2 separate regions of the Homo sapiens genome follow, and region 2 is linked to region 1. The links come from fine-mapping of genetic effects on gene expression. A gene starts in region 1. The other region holds a variant in brackets. All regions are shown on one strand. Distances are from middle to middle. Region 1 holds the start of DCUN1D1 (defective in cullin neddylation 1 domain containing 1). Region 2 overlaps DCUN1D1 (defective in cullin neddylation 1 domain containing 1).

What was found. PIP is the estimated chance that this variant, and not a neighbour inherited with it, causes the effect. A credible set is the group of variants that fine-mapping cannot tell apart.
Region 2: its variant is the best candidate, but not a certain one, in a credible set for the expression of DCUN1D1 in whole blood (TOPMed, PIP 0.53).

What each region holds. Positions count from the first base shown.
Region 1 is chr3:182,975,698-182,983,824 of GRCh38, reverse strand. DCUN1D1 (defective in cullin neddylation 1 domain containing 1) reads left to right here and starts at 3,287. Exons shown (of 7, transcript NM_020640.4): 1 at 3,287-3,338. The coding sequence starts at 3,336. It overlaps LOC105374246 (a long non-coding RNA gene), which reads right to left and starts at 3,018. Exons shown (of 2, transcript XR_924771.2): 1 at 2,338-3,018. RefSeq lists silencers at 2,999-3,438, 3,499-3,618.
Region 2 is chr3:182,952,843-182,960,969 of GRCh38, reverse strand. All of the region lies in intron 4 of DCUN1D1 (defective in cullin neddylation 1 domain containing 1), which reads left to right. It also overlaps the pseudogene C9orf85P2. Among named protein-coding and RNA genes, the nearest start is that of DCUN1D1, 24 kb to the left of the region's middle. The variant C/G (reference allele first, on the strand shown) is at 3,228.

The sequences.
Region 1 (8,127 bases):
TGGTGGGAAATATAATGTGGTAATCAAGAGAATAGACTAACCAGATAGCCAGACTATCAGGTTTCAAATCCTAGCTCTGCTACTTGCTAGCTAGGGAATCTCTTTTTTTTTTTCTTTGAGGTGGAATCTCATTCTTCTTGCCCAGGCTGGAGTGCAGTGGCGCGATCTCAGCTCACTGCAACCTCTGCCTCCAGGGTTCAAGCGATTCTCCTGCCTCAGCCTCCGGACTAGCTGGGATTGCAGGCATGCGCAACCATGCCCGGTTAATTTTAGTAGAGATGGGATTTCGCCATGTTGGCCAGGCTGGTCTCGAACTCCTGAACTTAAGTTATCTGCCCGCCTTGGCATCCCCAAGTGCTGGGATTACAGGCGTGAGCCACTGCGCCTGGCCTAGCTAGGGAATTTTAGGCATATTATTTAATCTCTCTGTGCTTCCATTTTCCCCTTTGTAGGATGGGCGTAATAGCTGGGCATGCTCATAGGGTAGAAGTGAGGTTATATGAGTTAGTATGTGTCGCAGTGAGGATTACATAAATTAGTATGTGTCATGGGCTCAGTCAGTATTAGCTAGGAGGCCAGGGATAGGAGAATTGGAGAAAGCAAGGAAACATGCAGAGGTATGGCAGTCTTGGTTTGTGAAAACTGAAATATGAGGTGCATTTGGGTGGAGGGTGGTGGAAAATGGCAATGGGAATGGATAGATCAGAGGAGAGAACTTTAATGCCATTCCAGAGGCTCATGCTTATGCAGCTCTTGGAGAATTTTACGGACAAATTCACATTTGCATTATAGAAAGACAACTATGGAGCAGTGGAGAAGGAGTAGAGGCTGGAAGATTAGGTAAGAAGTTACTGATGAGGAGAGATGATAAAGAATTGGCTGGCCAGGCGCGGTGGCTCACGCCTGTGATCCCAGTACTTTGGGAGACCGAGGTGGGGCAGATCATGAGGTCAGGAGTTCGAGACCAGCCTGACAAACATGGTGAAACCCTGTTTCTATTAAAAATGCAAAAAGTAGCTGGGCATGGTGGCACACATCTGTAATCCCAGCTACTCGGTGGGGGCTGAGACAGGAGAATCGCTTGAACCTGGGAGGCGGAGGTTGCAGTGAGCTGAGATTGCGCCATTGTACTCCAGCCTGGGTGACAGAACTAGACTCCATCTCAAAAACAAACAAAAAAATACAACAACAAAAAGAATTGGCTAAGAAATAGAAGGCAGGGTGCAGATTTAAAAGTCATTTAGGAGGGAAAACTGGTGAGATGCGGAGTAAGGGGATGAGGCAGGAAGAGTGGTGGATGATTCTTAGATTTCTAGTTTGGATGATTTGATAAAAGGCAGGAGGAAAAGTGGGTTTGGGGATAAAGTTTTAGATTTGGTGAGCTTGATGGACCTGTGAAATGACCAGAATGAGTGTTTAGGCCTGTCACTTGGGGACTGGAAGTCAAGATTTGAGATTCCTCTTGATATGGGCAGTAGTTGACGTGGGAATGTGAGTGACAGCGTGACACAGGCTGTATACAGAAGGACGTTCAGGAATGGTCAGGAAAGCCTAAATTGAGTACAGCCAGCAAAGGAGAGTGGTCAGAGTAAAGAGGAGATGCAGGAGAAGGTGGAGTCATGGAAAATGAACAGGAAATTCAAGGAGGAAGTGTCCAAACGCAGGCGAGAGGTCAATTAGAATAACTAAGGCCTGTACCTTGGTAGAGCTTAGGAAAACCCACAAACGATTATTTCAATGGAGTAGAACAGATTGGAGTAAGAGATACAGTGAATCCTCCTCATTAACGCCCTAGGTGTTAATACTTTAGGTCAAAAGCTAGGTGAATTCCTGGAGAACCTCCGTGGATGTAGTCCAGTTTCAGGCTTGCTGCATGAGGCAGATCTGGCTTCTCCTTGCAGGACTATTTACCCAGAGCCCAGCAAGGAGCTTGGCACATTCACATGCATTCTTTAAATATTGGGGGAAAGAATGGATGAACGGTTTGTGGCCGCCAGAAACCTGCCTTGGTACAGCGCTGGGCGCTCCCAGTACATGGCTAGCTCCAGGAAGTTAGGAGGCCTTTGGGAGTTACCAAAGAAGTTCTGTTGTTTTGGTAAGAACAAATTCATTAGTTATAGGGTTGATCTGGTCGTTTAATGCCTGTGCTGGTGATGATGGTGATAACGGGTCTACTCAGGTGGGTCCTGTTCTGAAACGTAGGTAAGCTCTTGGTACAGTTTCAGATGTGACTTTCTGAGTGAGTTTGCTTTCTTAGCTGTTTTATTTCCTTCCTGTGTGAAGGTGTCTTATCTCTCCAACTGGATACTACATTTCTGAAGGGCAAGGACCACTTACTCCACAGGAGTCTTCTGTCCTCCTTGCAGCACGAATTTGTCCACTTGATCCTCAGCTCAGAATCCTAGTGCTCCTCAGCCTCAGTTGATTTAACGCCCAGGGCAGGTCACACCTGGACTGTCCGCCCTGCGTGACTAGACCCTCAGTGAAAAAATGTGTAGTTGCTTCCCGAAACTTATCCTGGGCGGGCCGAACTGAGGGGATACTGAGAGCTAGCAGTAGGCAGGCAACCTGGACTCCCGCAGCCCGGCCTTGGGTCTCAGTGCACCCCACCCCATCTCACTATAGGGTTACCCCAACTGTCTCCCAGTAGACAGGTCTGGGGAGAGCCTGGTCCTCACTAATGGAGTGACAGCCACCGCAGGGGGGGGACTAAGGTCTCCCCTGGGATGCCCACGCGAGGGAACTGATGTAGGTCTGATACTGAGATTGGGGGGAAAAAGAAGAAAACACGGGGCAGGGGGAGGTGTTTCCACTATCTTCTCCCTTTTTTTGATACTGATGGGGAGGGGAGGTCTGGGATGGATGAAGCTCCTCAACCATCCGTTTCAGCCGCCCCCAGCTGCTCAACTTATCCGCCGCCGCTCGTGCCCGCTTCCAGCCTGCGTAGACCCGGCCGTGGTCGTCCGGAAGGAACCGCGTAGGAAACGGAGGTGGGGTGTCCCCCGGCGCCCCCACCAGAGACCGCCCGGCGCGGCAGGAGGATGTCGGCGCGCGGAGGGCTTGCGTCGCCCGCCCCTCCCCCGCCGCGCCCCCCGCCCCCGCCCACTCCCCGGGGGACCCCCGCGCCCGGGGGAAGCCCCGCGCGGGGCGCCCTCCGCCTGCCTCCGTCCCTCCGCCTCCCCGAGGTCCGGGGCTGCCTCCTCGGGCCGCGCCGGGCCGCCCCGCACTGCGCATGAGCGGGAGCCGGGCAAGCCCGTGAGAGGAGCCGCCGCCGCCGCCGCCGTCCATTCGCTGCGGAGCCGGAGGAGGAGGGGAGAGGCCTGGAGGACACCAACATGGTGAGGCACTGCGGCCGCCCGCCCGCCCTGCCGGCTGGGGGCCGGCGCTGCCGCGCACCCCCGCCCCGGCCGCCCTCCGTCCCGCGGCGACCCTGCAGCCCCGAGCCTCGGCCCGCGGCCTCCGTCCCGCTCCCAGGCGGGGGCTCTCCTGCCTGCCTCTCCCTTCCTCCTTCGCCCCTTCCCGCCCGGGCGCAGCCGCTACGCGAGAGCCGAGGAGGCGGAGCGGAGCCGGGCCTAGTCGGGAGCCCCGGGGAGTTTGGGGCGCGGGGAGCGGCCCCGGTGCCCCTTGCCGGGGCCCGGCGCGGGTGGGGGAGGCGTTGGGGCGGGGGGAGGGGAGGGGGCAACGGCCTTGCCCCTGCCCCTCTGCCGGCTCCATTGTGTCTGGTCGGGGACTGGGGTCTGGGGTTCCGGGTGAGTAGCCTCCCCCCGCCCCGAAGCCGGGGCTTCCCTCTCCGCCCGGCCGGGGAGAAGGAAAGACTTTCCCGGCGCGCCTCTCCCTCCTCCGCTCCCGGCTCCAATACCCCGCAAGTCTCCCAGGCAGTTTTGCTTGGGGCGGGGTATCAGCCCTTTTCCTTTCTCCATCACCTCTCGAGGCGTCCCATGCTTTTGGAGAAGGAGAGTTTCCCCGGCCAGTTGGTGGAGGTTATATTTACCTCTCTACTGAAAACATGGGAGACTGCTGAGCTTGGGGGAGGGGGTACGGAAGTGCAACCTGTTCTCATTTCATAAAATTAGGGAACACAGACTAGCGAGCGCCCTTTCGAGCACCTATTTTATTTGCTTGGGGGTGGGAGGAGTAATTGCTTTATTATAGTAGTTAAGGGCCATTTGTGATTTTTTTTAAAACAGTTTGTCAAGTTACTCTCCTTTTTTGTTTGGGGGGGGGAAAAAGTCCTCTCCAGGCTTGCAGACCCTTGTGGTCGAGTTGTTTACTTTGGTAATTAAGTACCTGACTCTGCTGGACGCTCTTCGCGTTTCAGAAGCGCTGTTTGGCATTGTACAGTCTGAGCGTGAGTTGAATTCCGTGCAGGTTACTGTATGAATAGTAAAAATGATATTGTTGTCCTTTGCTCGTGGGGAACATAAAGGCCTCTTTGAGGAGGGTGTGTGTGCGCGCCTGTGTTAAGGGAATGCTCCAGTGTCTTTGTTTTTAGTTGGTCTTATTTTTGCTGAATGACACTTCTAGTCCCATCCTCCAGCTTGGCAGTATTTTGTTGTCATGTATGGATATATGGTTTAGTCTGACACATATTTAACACTTATGTTCTGTGGCAAGTTGTGTAGGAATTTACAGTTTGAATTGGTAAGAAAACTTTAAAGTGCAGGTTAATGTATAGATTAGTATTACAGTGTTCAGAGATCCACCAGGCAGTCTAAACAGTTTCTAGTTTCTTAAGTATTTAGATGGTCATAGACATTACTCCTGAAGTTTCCAGACTCTTAGCATTTAGATAAGTATAGTAAGCTCGAAGTAATGACGTTAATTCCCTGGGAAACACTCAGCCACAGCTGAAATGTGTGCTCTTCAGGATGGTCTCCAGATCCGCATCATCCCCTAGACAGTGGGGTCCCGGAAATACTCATCACCTGTTCAGGAATTCAGGCATCAAGTGGTTCGTAGGGAGAGTTCAGCTTGTAAGCTTCTATTCTTTTGGTTAATATTAAAATTAGCTAGTTTTGAAACTTAGCCATAACCCATGTAATTCTACCAGTGGTGACAAGATATTAATTTAAAACATATCCTGTGGCTGAACTCAGTTTATGTCATGAGAATTGTCGTGATATTCTCTGGTTTAGCTAACTCACCGTAGGGGCTGGGCACGGTGGCTCATGCCTGTAATCCCAGCACCCTGGGTCACCGAAGCAGGAGGATTGCTTGAGAGCCTAGGAGTTTGAGACCAGCCTGCGCAACATAGTAGTGAGACTCCATCCCAAGGAAAAAAAATAGCCAAGCATGCTGGTGCTAGCCTGTGGTTGCCCCTACTCCAGAGGATGAGGTGGGAGGATTACTTGAGCTGGGAGGTTGAGGCTGCTGTGAGCCCTGCCACTGCACCACTCCAGCCTGGCTAACAGACCTTGTCTCTTAAAAAAAATAATAAGAAAGGAAAGAGACTCACCACTGGCCCTAATCGAAGTTAGGCAGTAAGAATTTTATAGTTAAGAAGTTGTTTCATTATAAAGTTATCTTACATATATTTGTTTCTTTATGCAGTTTCGGGGCTGTGAGTTTTTTGGTGTCTGTAGCTGCAGCCCATTTCCAGAGCACATGTTATTGTCAGTTCTAGAGCAAACTTAAATGATGGGATATTTGAAATACTTTGTATAAGTAAAAAAGTTCTGTTAACTTCCTCCCTCCCCCCACACACAGACTAAAAACGACTCCAAAATTAGATAATATTCTGTTACTTTGGAACTTGTTTTTTGTTGTTGTTGTTTTTTTTTTTTTGAGATGGAGTTTTTGCTCTGTTGCCCAGGCTGGAGTGCAGTGGTGCAATCTTGGCTCACTGCAACCCGTGCCTCCTGGGTTCAAGCGATTCTCCAGCCTAAGCCTCCCAAGTAGCTGGGATTATAGGTGCCCGCCAACATACCCGGCTGATTTTTGTATTTTTAGTAGAGACGAGGTTTCACTATGTTGACCTGGCTGGTCTCGAACTCTTGACTTCAGGTGATCCACCTGCCTCGGCCGCCCAAGGTGCTAGGATTACAGGCGTGAGCCACCACGCCAGCCTGAAACATATTTTTAAAAAGTGTTCGGCTGAGTGCAGTGGCTCACGCCTGTAATCCCAGCACTTTGGGAGGCCAAGGTGGGCGGATCACAAGGTCAAGAGTTTGAGACCAGCCTGGCCAATACGGTGAAACCCCGTCTCTACTAAAAATACAAAAATTAGCCAGGCGTGGTGGTGGGGGCCTGTAGTCTCAGCTACTCAGGAGGCTGAGGCGGGAGAATCACTGGAACCCAGAGGAGGAGGTTGCAGTGAGCCGAGATCGCGTCATTGCACTCCAGCCTGGGCGAGAGCGAGACTCCGTCTCAAAAAAAAAAAAGTGTTCAAAACGTGTGGGTTGTTTTATTTATAAGATGGCAGGATTGGACTTGATGATTTCTAAAGTTTCATCCAGCATAGACATTTTATGATTCTAATGATTTTTAGACTCATAGCATCATAGAATTTTTAGACCTGAAATAGACTCAGAGATCATCTAATTACTCCTCCCCATTTTTACACAAGAAGAAATTGAATATCAAGGAGGTTTTGAGGTTCAGGTTTGCAGGATTGTTGGTTGCAGAACTGAAACTATTTTCTCCTGGTCTACCATTTCCCCCAGTATTATCTGTTAACTCATATGAAATCCAGAAAATTACATTTGAAATTAAATCATATCCATCACTTAAACACAGGAAACCCCATGTTATTTATGAATATGTTAAGTAACAAAATTCATATTAATGGGTGATCAATGATGTTAATGCCTATGTTTTCAATGGCTTTAAATATATATGAACTTTGAAATTTAAGATTATGTTGTCAACAAATACTAGAATTTGTAAATTCAAATACATGTAGGTCTATTCAAGGTTGTCTTTTCATAACTTGTTGCACATTCTTTGCATGTCTACAAATAAAGGAGGTTATCAGTTCTTTTCAGTGATTATTATACGTCTGCTGTGTGCTAGAGATAGTGTTAGGCACTGAAGGGATGTATATATCACAGAAGAGACAAAAATCCTCACTCTGGTGAGGGGTACCTTTTAGTAGGGAGACATAAATAATAAACATAGTATATAGTTTTCTTCTTTACTATGTTAGAAGGTGTTAAGTGCTGTGGGAGAAAGCAGTGTTAGGGAAGGGGATTGGGGGTGCTAGGGCATTGATGGAAGTAGGGTTGCTAAATATCTGTATCACCAATGAGATAATTTTGAACAGAGTAGGGGATGAGGGAATAAGCCATGCAGAAATGTAGAAATCTTGAGGAACAGTGAGACCAATGTGGCTGGAGCAGTGTGTGTGTGTGTGTGTGTGTGTGTGTGTGTGTGTGTGTGTGTATGTATGTATATGTACATGTGTATATACAGGGGGTCGTTGGAGCAGATGAGGCCTAGGTGGCAAGGAGTGGGGGTAGGCATGGGTGGACACTGTAAGGATACTGGGCTTTTATCCTAGAGAAATGGAAATCCATTGAAGGATTCTGAGTGGTACGATATACCTTGTTTTTTTTTGTTCCATAGTGTCCTGTGACAGTATTACAGATAATTATTTTTAAAAGCAGTTTTTTCAGAAGACCCTTATTACAGTTTTCTTTACCATGCAGCTTCTATGTACAGAGTTTTGAATTCTGTTTAAGATGACTGTCTAATGTTCAATAAAAACTAATGGATTATCAAGTATACCTAGCCACACTAGGGTTAATAAAAACACAACCAAACCTCTTTGATAGATTGTTGAATATGTTCTAGTGGTTTATATGTAGTTCAGTGACTATATGCAGAAAACTGGGCCTTTGGGGACAAAGAAACGAAATTAACATTTATCGAGAAGGTACACTCTACTAGTCAGACAATTTACAATTGTCATTAATCTCCACTCCCACTTCTGAAATAGGCATTATTACTACTTTTTTTTTTTTTTTTTTTTTTTTAGCATATCTGGGAATGAAGGCTTAGCGATTCTAAATGATTTCATGCTAGTATGTGGCAGAGCAGGGGTTAGGACCCTGGTCTCTGGTTCCACACTTTTATCTCCCCCTGACCCTCACCTACTCCCATTTTTCTGTTTTTTGTTTTTTGTTTTTG
Region 2 (8,127 bases), 23 kb after region 1:
TTCCACTGACAGTTATTTATTTATGCATTCATCCATTCATTCATTTTTTCATTCATGACCCTGAAGATATTTTAGGATCTTAGGATCTATAGAAATAGCACTATAAGATTTCTGAGTCATAGAATGCCAGATAAATTTATTCTTTTTTGTTATGATTTATTTGAAAACTATAAGGATGAAAAATGAAGTGCTTATCATTCATAGTCTTATTATCCAGAAATAACCACTGTAAAAGTTTAGATCAATCCATTTGTATTTGTACATTTGCTTTTGGGATAGTTAAGGGGATATGAGAGTAAAAGATACAGTGTAATTTGCAAATTACCTAAAAAGATTAGATAGTGCTAGTAGGTAATTACAAAATAATAAAAGTATGTAAGGGTTTTAGAGGGAGAAATGAGTAAAAGCAGGAGTGGTTGGGAAATGCTTCCTGGACAAGGTGGGATATGAACTAAAGGATTTGGTATTTGGCTGAACGAGGGAAGATAAAAGATGTTCCAGTGAGAAGATAGTTATGAATGAAGGTCTAAAATTTCAGCAATAAGCTTGGCTTTGTGCAGGAGAGAAGTTGTTGGTTTGATTTTAATGAGAATGCTTGTTTGGAGATGAAATTGGTGAGACACAAGAAAGCTGAATAACCACAGGCTTCTTTTGAAATCAGAAAGGATTTTGTTTTTATTTTTTTTTTTGGAGACAGAAAGGTTTAAATTGGAATTTGTGGGAAATGGGGACCCAATGAAGATTTTGATGATGGTGATAACTTCCATTTAATGTGAGCTTTTAGTATGTCTGGCACTGTGCTAAGTACTGTACTTTACATATACTACTTGTCTTGTATGTAAGTCCATTTTGTGTTGCTATAACAGAATACCTGAGACTGGGTAACTTACAAAGAGGTTTGTTTAGCTCATGATTCTGCAGGCTAGGAGTGGGGCATGGCCCTGGCTTCTGCAGAGGGCTTTTATGCTGCATCATCACGTGGCAGACAAGGTCAAAGGGGAAGTGGACTCCTGTGAGGAGAGAGACCAAACAGGAGGGGAAGCCTCGCTTTATAATAACACACTCCAGGAACTAATCCATTCCCTCTGGCAAGAACTCACTGTTGCAAAAGGAGAATAGCACCAAGCCATTCATGAGGGATCCACCCCCATGAGTTAAATGCTGCCCACCAGGCCTCATCTTCCAGCTCCACCACAGTGGGGATAAAATTTCAGTACGAGTTTTGGTGGAACAAACCAACTATATCCAAACCATAGCACTGCCTCATTTAATGTTTACCAATTTTTTGAGTGATTCATCCTTTCATTCAGTAATTTACCACCTGCTATGTGCCGTGCCAAATACATAGTAATAAAGTGCTAGCAGTTTATTATCCTTAATTTGAAGATGAGGAAATTTAGGCACAGGAAGGTTAAGTAACTTACCCAGTGAAGGTAAATGAGGTTTTTTTTTTTTTTTTTTTTTTTTTGGTTTTTGAAGATATAGTAGTTGGAGAGGCTAATAAGGGGCCTTCTGCACTAATTCCACTTTATTTTTTAAATTGGGGGGAAAAAGTATTGAGAAACAGATTATATGAACGGATTAGATTGAGGAAGTGACGGAAAGGTAGAGAGGAAGGGATAAATGTATAACCTTTGTAATGTGGTATGGCCCCACGAGTTACTAAACATGACTGAATTGATGAAAGATTCATAACATATTTGTAAAGCGAAATTCTCAATAATAAAGCCTCCTTTCCAACTTGATTGCTCAATATAGATAGGATTTTATTCTTAAAGGAAAAATCCTCATTTTGCAGGCAGAATAAGCCGGGATACCTACAATTAGTTTTTCTGTCTGGGGCCACCAGTTAACTGGGATGTTTTTTCTGTTTTTCTCTTTCCTTCCACAAATAATAATCTGTTAAAGTCTTTGAATTTACATGTATGTGTAAAATAATTATTTTGTCATATTTAGAAGTGTAGTACAATATTTTGATAAGATTAAATATAATGTGAATGTCAAATGTTGATTTAAAGGGACATAACCTATTTCTTAGTTATATCGCTACCCTTTACTGGAGCACAAAATAAATGGTGTTTTGGGTGAATATATAGTTTTGAGACTGAATCTTAGTTTTTATTACTTGTGGTAAGAATTGAGCAAAATTAAATTTTTATAACTATTGGATATATTAATATGGTAAATTGGAATTTTAGATTACAGGAAAAAATTGAGAAACAGATTATGTGAAAGCATTATGTTGAAGAATTATGTGTGTTTATTCTGTTATCTAATAAGTATTGTGCTTAAGAAAAAATGTAATATTTAAAGGATGTAGAGTTTTTGTTTCATAAGATGAGCATTCTGAAGATCGATGGCACAGCAATGTGAATGTACTTCACACTGAACTGCACCCTTCAAAAAGATTCAGATGATAAACTTTATGTTATATGTATTTAACTACAATGAAAATGTTATTTAAGACCCCCCCACAGCCATACAGTGTACAATACAAAGAATGAACTCTAATGTAGAATATGGACCTTAGTCAATAATAATATATTCATATTGATTCATCAGTTATAAAAAATATACCACACTAAAGCAAGATGTTAAAAATAGTAGGAACTGACTAGGGAAGAGGGTATATGGAAATCTCTACTTTCTGCTCAACTTTTCATAAACCTAAAACTAAAAAAGTCTATTAATTAAAAAAAAGAAAAATGTAGTAAGAGACAAATCATAGTTTTTTTTTTTGGTTTGTTTTGCTTTGGTGTTAGGTATCAGGAAATGTAATGACTTGCTTATTTGCAGAGTTTAATTAAAAAGGAAACAGTTTTTTATAACAGCCTTTCTAAGGGTTCACAGTGCTCTTAAATTACAAGATTTGGCAGAGAGGAATTAGAAGATCATAGGAGAAGAGGTAAGGCCCAAAACAAATTGGCAGAGAGTGAGTGACAACCCTGTGGTTTGTTTATAAATAGCTGTGCTAATTAAAATGAGAACTGGTGTATTCCATGTTTCTGTTTTTTTTTTTTTTTTTTTTTTTTGATGCAGGGTCTTGCTCTGTTGCCCAGGCTGGAATGCAGTGGTGCAATCGTGGCTCACTGCAGGCTTGACTTCCTGGGCTCAAGTGATCCTCCTGCCTCCGCCTCCCGAGTAGCTGGAACTATATAGGGAAGCACCACCATGCCAGGCTAATTTTTTAATTTCTTGTGGAGCTGGAGACTTGCGGTATTACCCAG[C/G]CTGGTTATTTTTTCACTTTTTATAACCTTACTTCTTGTGATACCAGGATAGGGTGCTTCCTCTGTTGCCATCTGCTTTAGTAATCTGACTTAAACATTTTTTTTTGATTTGTTTTAGATACAGGATCTGGCTCTCTTGCCTAGGTTGGACTGTAGTGCCATGATCGTAGCTCACTGCAGTCTCAAACTCCTAGGCTCAAGTGATCCTCCTGCCTCTGCCTCCGGAGTAGCCAGACTACAGGCGTGTGCCACCATGCCTGGCTAATTTTTACATTTTTTGTAGAGATAAGGACTCACCGTGTTGCCCAGGCTGGCCTCAACCTCCTGGCCTCAAGTGATCACCCCGCCTTGGCCTCCCAAAGTCTTGGGATTACAGGCATGAGCCACCACACCCAGCCTGCCATTTTCTGATAATTGCCTGAATCTTAAAATTTGAAAAGGATTTCATAAGTCCTCTATAAAATTTAACCTACCCAAAGTAGCATCCTTACCTGATGCTCATTCAGTTTCTCCTTTTGAACATGCAGGGACTGGACACACATTGTTTTAGGAAGTTGTCCATTCCTATCACAGAATATCCTTACTTGTTATTACACAGTTCTTCCTTATTAAGCTAACATCTTTGTCTTTATTACTTCTATCATTGCTCTTACTTGTCCCCCAGTGCAACACTGATAAAGGCTAAAATTAAAGATCCACTCTCAGTTACCTGTTGTTTTTCTCCAGGCCAGCATTCCAATTATTTTAACTATTCTTCTTACAGGAGACATTTGTTATTCCCACTACTATCCCCCCAAACACATTTCCAATTTCTTTCAAAATAGAGCCCATAAAGTTGAACATCATATTTCAAAAGGAGCCTAAGTAATATAGAACACCGTGGGTCTGTTAATTTTTGTGAGACTATTCATTATGTTAATTTGATCAAAGATTATATATGTTCTTTAGCAGCCATATCATTTTTAGGGCCATACTGAACTTTTATTAGACTAAAGTCTATGAGTCACTTTCTTGTAGGTTGTGGTTCAGCTGGAATCTTATACCTCTACAATTGATTTAAATGATTTGAACATTATTTGTTAAATATTTAGTTTAATATTTAGGAACAATTGTATAGTGTTTTAAAGAACACGATAATCTGTATAATCCCATTTGGTTCTCATAACAACCCCTTTGAGCTAAGTAAAAGCATATTATCTTCTCCATCATATAGATGAGGAAACTCATAGCCAGAGAGACTGACTTGTTAATAAGGTCGCCTAACTGGAGAGTGGTTGGACTGGCACTGAGACTAGATCTCAGGCCTTATGACTCCACATTCTGTGTTTTATTGTTGTTGTTGTTGTTATTTTGTGTTAGCCGTAGATATTTCTAAGTAAATTAAGACATTGTGGCTTTTGCCTGCTCCCAGTGAGGGGTGATTGGGGTTTTGGTGATGAGCTCCCAGAAAGGCAACGTGCCTCATTCCAGGCCTCAGAAGCACCAGAATATATTTAGCTTCAAAAATGACAAGTTCAACTGGGCATGGTGGCTCACGCCTATAATCCTAGCACTTTGGAGGCTGAGGTGGGTGGATCACTTGTGGTCAGGCGTTCGAGACCGGCCTTACCAACATGGTGAAACTCTATCTCTACTAAAAATAAAAAATTAGCCAGGCATGGTGGTGCCTGCCTGTAATCCCAGCTACCCGGGGGGCTGAGGCAGGAGAATGGCTTAAACCCGGGAGTCAGAGGTTGCAGTGAGCTGAGATTGTGCCACTGTACTCCAGCCTGGGCGACAGAGCAAGACTCTGCCTCAAAAAAAAAAAAAAAAAGTTTGATAAGCATGTTTAGACCAAGAAAAGTAACACAAAACCATGGTGCGGCTGGGCGCGGTGGCTCACGCCTGTAATCCCAGCACTTTGGGAGGCCAAGGCAGGTGGATCTCCTGAGGTCAGGAGTTGGAGACCAGCCTGACCAACATGGTGAAACCCTGTTTCTACTAAAAATACAAAAATTAGCCAGGTGTGGTGGTGGGTGCCTGTAATCCCAGCTACTCGGGAGGCTGAGGCAGGTTCACTTGAACTTGGGAGGTGGAGGTTGCAGTGAGCCGAGATCGCACCACTGCACTCCAGCCTGGGTGACAGAGCGAGACTCAGTCTCAAAAAAAAAAACCCTCCTGATGGAGTATGTCAGCGCTGTAAAGAAGTTCTTGAGTGGCATGTAAAATATAGCAAATACAAACCATTATCCAACCTAAAAAATGTGTTAAATGTTTACAAAAGACAGTGGAGGATTCTTATCTCATAACGTGTAGACCATGTGCCTATGAACTTGAAGTTTGCGCAAAATGTGGGAAGAAGAAGACATTGCTATTCTGTTCAATAAAGAACCAGGAAAAACAGAGAATATTGAAAATAATCTAAGTTCCAACCATAGAAGAAGCTGCAGAAGAAGTGAAGAAAGTGATGATGATTTGGATTTTGATATTGGTTTAGAAAACACAGGAGGAGACCCTCAAGTGAATTAATATTACTGTATTAAAAGTCAGTTTAAATTAGCCGGGTGTGGTGGCGCATGCCTGTAATCCTAGCTACTCGGAAGGCTGAGGCAGGAGAATCCCTTGAACCCTGGAGGCAGAGGTTGCAGTGAGCCGAGATCGCACCATTGCACTCCATTTTGGACAGCAAGAGCGAGGCTCAGTCTCAAAAAAAAAAAAAAGTCAATTTAAGAATGTGAAATTCTGACCAACTTCTGACTATTTCACAAAAGATACTGTGAAATCCTAATGAGGAAATCAGAAAAACCTTTAGAAAAGTAGACAAATTTTAGACACGAACAATATAAATTGTGTATGATGTATTATCTAATACCAAACTAAACCAGATTCAGAATTGATGGTTGTATAAGAAAGGAACCACCTCATGTAAAAATAAAATGACATTATTATATTGCTAGCCTCAAAAATTGGTCCTCAGTAAGTGCCTTTTGGTAAATGATCTCAAGTAAATGACTCATAGCAAAAGCCTCATACTTATGTTTGCATGTTAAAAAGCAGAAGCAGCATTCTCAAATACTAATGTTTAACAAGTGTATGGCGATTTTTATTTGTATTTTTATATACCTCATCACATTGTTTTTACCTTTTTTCTCGTGAAATGTGCACACAGAAAAAAATGCATAGAATTTATATAGATAATTTAATAAATATAAAGAAAAGTTCATGCATTTATACAGCCAGGTGAAGAAACTGCCGGCATCAGAAGATCCCAGCAAGGCTCTCGTTCAGCAAAAGCTCATCTTTCTTCCCAGAGTTGGAAATTATTCTGAATTTTGATAATTATAGTCTTAATTCTTTTACTACCCATGTTTCTGTTCCTAAACGATATAAATTAGCTTTGTCTGGTTTTTTAACTTTCCTCTTTTTGTTTTGAAAAATATCAATTGAAAATATCAATCAGAAAAGGTAGCAAAATAGTTCTGTGAACTTTTGCGTATTCTTCACCTGGATTCCCAATTGTTAACATTTTACCACGTTTTCTTTATATCTCAGTAGATGGATGTACACACATATTTTATTTGCTGAACCATTTGAAAATGTGCACTGGTTTTGAACTTTGTATGAACAGACTTATACTATATATGTTATTTTATATCTCTTTTTTCATTGTTATAAAATTTGTTGAGATTGATTAAAAAAGACATTGTGAATAGGATTTTTAATCACCATTCCATCCTCCCCAGTGAGCTGGCAACATTTTGTTTCTTTTAGGGACTGTGATTGGGTCTAGTCTCAATTCATTTCCATGTTCATCCTGCATTCAGCTGATCATCTGTTGTGAAATACCACATTATTCTTGTTGATTCTCTTTGAAAGAATAACATGGGGAGTATCTCTGTTTGCATTTTACATTTTACCGTAAGGACTTAAGGATTTATTCTGCAAGGATCTCAATTTTATGCAATAGCTTGTTATTAGGACTTAGTTATTTCTTTTTCTCTATATTTGCCTTCCATTTATTTTAACTGCTGTTGCTTCTTGTTACCTTATCACTGACTTTGTTGTCTTTTCCAATACTGCTTCAGAATCTAATAGTTCTAAATGATTTAAAATAATGATAATAGTAAGAACTGATATGTTATTTACCAGGTACTGTTACGAATGCTTTGTTATGTATTAACTCATTTAGTCCTTAGAACAACCAGGTAAGGATAGGTACTATTGTTATCTTCATTTTAAACTGAATCAAGGAGAAGTCAGCCCAGTTGCCCAAGGTCACTTAACTGGTGGTAGAGTAGGGGTTTAAGAGACTAAAACTCATACTGTAAACTACTATGTTAAATCACCTCTCGCTAGCTAAGCTGCTCTCTTCATCACTTATAAATTTCTTTCTGAGGGCTTCTTTTCCTATACCTGTGACAATTAACATTTTATCCTTGTTTAATCTTATGTATTTCAGCTCTTAGTTATAACTTATTAATCTTTTTGAGTTAAAGTCTTCCTTTTTTATTCAAAAACACTTGACTGCTTTCACTGAGAGCATGGAGTCAAGAGCATCTTTAGTCTGTCTGGGGTAGTTTGCAGTACCTTCAAAAAGGGTATAGTTTTTGAGCCTTGAAGAATGAATGCACATTTTCAAGACCAAAGGAAAAAAGAAGCCATTTCAGGTTGAGGGGTTAGCATGTTCACTTGCTCAGAGGTGAAAGAACATTCCACCTTTGAGGAACTGCAAGTGAGTTCATTTGACAAGAAGTGCAAATTTTATCTAAAGGTAATTGGAAATGATTGAAGAATTTTAACATGGAAGTGACACCAGATTCATGCCTGAAAGGTCGATCTCAAAGCACTGTGGTCCTTTGAAAGGAGTGAAAGCTGAACTAGAAGAGAGATTGGTTATGGAGCTATCCCAGTGATTTAGTTA